2 separate regions of the Homo sapiens genome follow, and region 2 is linked to region 1. Evidence: fine-mapped expression QTL. Tissue or cell type: whole blood. Region 1 holds a variant in brackets; the other region holds the start of a gene. All regions are shown on one strand. Distances are between the middles of the regions.

Region 1 (2,500 bases):
TCCATGTGGTGAGTGGACATGATGATGGTTCTGCCTGCAAGGTAGGGGCCAGGGCAATCACCAGGCCTGCCCTGGGTTGGGCATTGTTGGTAAAGGGTGTACAGCAATTTCCTGGCTATATAGTTGCAAAAATCAGGAGTTAACTAAAAAAAAAAACCCAAGGGAACTAATTCAGCAGCAAATTCCAGCATATTAGGACAATAATAACTAACATTTCATAGCTTCCTACATACTGTAAAGCATTGCCACACACAGTGTCTCTGTATCCAGCATAGGATCTGATTCAAATAAATCTCTATATTAGGGGCTCATGTATTATGGTCAGCATCTAGGGAGTTTCATATGTACATTTTCTGGATCATTAAGCTCTGGATTTATACTCTTCATAAAGAACACACACGTGCATACTCTCACTAACTGGAGATGTCATTAACAGAAAACAGCAGGCCGGGCACGGTGGCTCATGCCTGTAATCCCAGCACTTTGGGAGGACAAGGCGGGAGGATCACCTGAGGTCGGGAGATCGAGACCATCCTGGCTAACACGGTGAAACCCCGTCTCTACTAAAAATACAAAAACAATTAGCTAGGCGTGGTGGCGGGCACCTGTAGTCCCAGCTACTCAGGAGGCTGAGGCAGGAGAATGGCTCGAACCCAGGAGGCGGAGCTTGCAGTGAGTGGAGATTGCGCCACTGCACTCCAGCCTGCGCGACAGAGCGAGATTCTGTCTCAAAAAAAAAAAAAAAAAAAAAAGAAAAGAAAGAAAGAAAATAGCAATGAGGATTTCAGGATGACAAACCCTCAGAGAAAGGCACGGGGCAACGCTGTGTGAGTAGAGCAAGGGGGAAAGCTCTGGCTTGACCACGGGGTTGAACCGTGCTGTTACCTCTATGGGCACTCAGCTCTGCTTGCTGTCTCTTCTGATCTGAGCCCCTTGTCTGAGAGGTGCCATGACAGAGGAGCCACTTCCATCTGTGGCCACCCTCTGGAGCACTGAATGCCCAGCAGGTCACCCTCACACTGGTCCTGAGTGGTCATCTGACAGCTATGGAGCTTCTAGGTATGTTTGCAGGTGACCTGGGTCCCCATGGTCAGAGAAGACATTCACCTAGAGTAGCATCCATTATTCCAGACAGAAGGGCTGCAGGTCAAGAGAATTTTCTAAAATATTTTGGGAAGTAGGTTGCATCATCAGTGATTCTCTGTTTATATTTGTAAAAACCTCAGGAGGCTTTAGCTGGAACTTAGATTCACCAAGTCACTGATAA[A/T]CCCCCTTCTGAGTGTAGTCATTGTGGTTCCTGTACTCAGCTACAAAATGGCAGGTGAGAGAGTGGGGACCACAGCTAGGGCTGCAGTGAGAGCCCAGCCCAGGAGACTGAGCAGCAGCTGTTACCTGAGCGATACTTCAGGAGCAGATCCCAGATTGAGCGTCTCGAGTAAGGGTCCACCCCAGAGGTGGGTTCGTCCAGAATCACCACCTTGGCATCTCCCACAAAGGCAATGGCAACCGACAGCTTTCTCTGCATGCCACCTGGAGGCACAAGAAGGACGGGAGAGTTAAGGGGCTGTGGAGGGTGAGGAAGAGAAAGGCCCAGGGCAAGTGGCATTGTGGGGGTACCTTAACCCAGCAGTGGTTTGGTGCTGCCTCTTAGATGTTTATAGCGTTCAAAGCCCTAATACTGTTCAGGCTTTGTAAATGCAGAAAGGGCAACCCTCACCTCCTCGGATCAGACCCTTTGAAGACTGTTCAAGCACATCAATCTCAGGACAAATAAAACCCAGGCTGCTGTGAGACAGTGCTCTGCAGGGAAAATGATCTGGGGGCTGCTCTTAGATTTTTGGTGTAACTTCACAGAGGTGTTCCCACCCTTAGAAGCTCTCCTGCTCCAAGCCTCCCCTGCCTCCTGGGTGCACTGGGGAGCCATGGATTTGCCATCTGTGGCCCTGTCTCCATCCAGCTCTGAGCACCTGATAGGTCCTGAGCCTCTTCATTCCGCTTGTGGTGGAGGCCTGTGTCCTCCAACATGGCTTCCATCTCCAGCTGGGCCTCCTCCTGGGACTTTCCTTTCAGCTGGGCATAGAACAGCATGTGCTCAGCCACCGTGAGGCTAGGAGGATGGGACAACGAGAAAAGCAGTGGCTTAGCACTTCCACTTCCAGCAGCTGATCTTACAGAAATAATTGAGGACAAGTATTCTTGATTTGGCAATCAAGATGCTCACTGTGGTGGTGTTTATGATACAATACAAAAATAGCAGACCCTGCTTAAATATCTAATAAGAGGATGGCTTACATAGTTCATGCATACAATGGAATAATCTGTAAACATTAAATATTATTTTATAGAAGAATATGTAATGACATGAAAGATGTTCCTGATATCTTATGTTTAAAAAAGCAATCCTTTTTTTTGAAAAAAAAGTCAGGTTATAAAATTGTATGCATAGTTTTACTATTCTTTATCATTTTGAAGTATATGTGTTTATCTATCTATACATGTA
Region 2 (2,615 bases), 130 kb before region 1:
TGTGCTGCTGCATGGTCTGTTACCAACATCTCATAGAAGAGAGCAGAAACCACTTAGGAACACAGCTGATTTAGGAAGGTTTTTCTAAACACACATAGTTTAGGAAGGTTTTTCTCTTAATTAAGATTTATCTTTCTGATGGAACCAGATGACAGGGAGATAGATGCCTGCATGGTGAGCGTTTTCATATATTACCTCTTAATTCTCACAACAACCTGATGAGGAAGGTGTTATTATCCAACTTTAAAGTAATTTTCCAAAGTCATATAGCTCCTAAATCTAAAGATTTTGTTATTTTTTAAATACTAAAATTGTCCCATACCACCAATATGCACAATGTGCAGTGGATGACTATCCGCTCAGAAATGGCCAACAAATAGGTAACAAGTTTGTAATTCCAGATTAATCTCTGTCACCTCCAACTAGTGACTAGTCTTTTTATTTTCCAGTTTTTACAAAACTTTAATTTTTGAATTGATAGATTATATTTGTACATATTTATGGGGCACATGTGATATTCTGTTACATGCATAGAATGTACAATGATATTGTTACATGCATAGAATGTGTACTGATAAAGCATACATAGACGCACAGATAAGTGCATAAAATGTGTAATGACTAAAGTCAGGGTATTTAGGGTATTCCAAAGCCAAAATTGAGTGCTTACTCATTTGCCTCACTGCAATAGAGAGTCTAATGTCAACATTCTAAAAGTTAGGTGTACTATGAATACTACTTCATCTGAATGCACCAAAGGATAATCTCCGAAAATATTCCTTTACCTGGACAGGGTGGGGGAAGGAAGCGAGAGATGTGGAGAGAGACGGAGCGACGTCCTGGCCCTCTGTGACCTCCGTGCCAGGAAGAGGGACCCAGGATGTTTGAGAGTTTTGCTACCAGCCTTAAGCACCGAGAGAGGTGTCACTCAGTGCGCAGCTGCACCGGCTAAGTTTTTTAGACGCGTTGCCCTCGGCAGCGGGTTTGGACCCAAGGTCGCGTCGACACTGGCCTCAGCATCTGACCGCGGGCGGAGCCCAGGTGCGCGCGAGGCCCTGCCACCCTCCCTCGCCCGCGGGCGCTTCTCCCTTGCCGGAACCGCCCGGCCCCGCCCGAGGCCTGCCCCGGGAGCCCCGCGGCGAGTGTCGCCACGCTCACCTCCTCGCTGTGCGTGGACGGGCACTTCTTCCGCAGGCGGCCCCAGTTCAGCAGGTTCCCCGTCTGCAGGTGCAGGGTGCGGGCCCGCGCCAGGAGCGCCTTGGCCGCGCGGCTGTCGGTGCCCATGGCAGCGGCCGCCCAGGGGCCGCGCAGCGAAGGGGCTGCGGGCGGGCGGGCAGGCAGGCGGCCGCCCCACAGGACGCGGTGCCCGAGGCCCGAGAGAGACCCGAGAGGGAGCGCGAGGCTGCCGGCGCCGCGCGGCTGGAGCCTGGTCTGCGCTCGGGCCCGAGGGAGGCCGGACGGCGGCTGGGCGGCGGCGGGAAAGGAAGGCACCGGTGGCTGCGGCTCCGGCTCCGGCTACTGCGGCCGCAGCGGGAGAGCTGATTCCAAACTGAGGGAGCTGTTTCCTGGAAGACAATGACTAAGCAGAAATCGTAGCCGAGAAAGTGCTTCGTAACCGTTACTCATCCCGCGGCGGGGCAGGGGCGGGGCGCGAATGGGCTGCGGGACGCCGGCCCGCAAGTGACTGGCCCTTGGCCTGCGGCGGGCGTGGCGACGGGTGGTGCGCGGCGGGCGCGCGGGTCGAGAGAGCGTGGCGGCGCGGCCCGGAGCGCAGCGCGCGGCAGGGCTCCCCCTGGCGGTCAGAGGACAGCGCGAGGCAGACACCGCCTCCGCCTGGTGAGGTAGACACCGCCTCCGCCTGGTGAGGTCTCCCGGCGTTCAGGTCGCGGCTCCGCCCACGGCCGCCCCAGGGTGGGCTTCCTACACGTCTCTTTAAAGGGCAGCCTGAGCGGCCACCGGGACTCGGAAATGCTACGTAGTTTTCGTTCTCAGAAGCAGCTGTTTATGCGCAAGCGCCCCCTTCTTCTTTTCGCTTTGCTACCTTCAAGGACCTTCTCCCAAACTGCTAATTTTTCTTCATCCGTTAAAGGTCTATTGATTCACATTATTTGCTGGCAGTGTGTGAAGTCAACGAACAAGACTGAGTCTTTGCCCTTGAGACGCGTACACTCTACCCAGAGACAAGTTCTAAGCACAGGAAACAAGTAATTTTATAAGAACATCATAGGGCAGTTATTCTCCAGATGAATTCAGATTAAAGAGGACACTTGAGCCGGTGAGATCACAGAAAGCTTTTATCACCCACCCCTTTAGAGGTGGTCGAGATTATTTACCCCTATTAAATTTCACGTGTGGTGGTGGACTCGGTATAAACATCAAATTGAACATGTATTGAGCTTTCCTCAACAATCTTTCACATTCGTTGAGGTGAATCAGATTATTAAAGGCAAAATGAGATTCTCATTATAAGCGGGGACAATATAGCTATTGAAAAGAGAGATGAACCAGTTGGTAAAATGGTAAGAATTAGGGGAGGGATGGGAAAAAAGATCTTTCTAGGAAGTTAGAAATTGAGCCTGATGTTGAGTAAATATTTGTTGGCTGAATGAATGATG

Evidence for each region. PIP is the estimated chance that this variant, and not a neighbour inherited with it, causes the effect.
Region 2: it holds the start of GCLM, and the variant in region 1 is fine-mapped to the expression of GCLM in whole blood (TOPMed, PIP above 0.99).

Annotation. Positions count from the first base shown.
Region 1 is chr1:94,041,369-94,043,868 of GRCh38, forward strand. ABCA4 (ATP binding cassette subfamily A member 4) reads right to left here. Exons shown (of 50, transcript NM_000350.3): 21 at 1,968-2,107; 22 at 1,393-1,530; 23 at 1-34. Among named protein-coding and RNA genes, the nearest start is that of ABCA4, 79 kb to the right of the region's middle. The variant A/T (reference allele first, on the strand shown) is at 1,268.
Region 2 is chr1:93,907,880-93,910,494 of GRCh38, forward strand. GCLM (glutamate-cysteine ligase modifier subunit) reads right to left here and starts at 1,551. Exons shown (of 7, transcript NM_002061.4): 1 at 1,159-1,551. The coding sequence starts at 1,284. It overlaps LOC124904221 (a long non-coding RNA gene), which reads left to right and starts at 1,713. Exons shown (of 2, transcript XR_007066230.1): 1 at 1,713-2,275. RefSeq lists silencers at 965-1,014, 1,065-1,424, 1,635-1,874 and an enhancer at 1,915-2,074.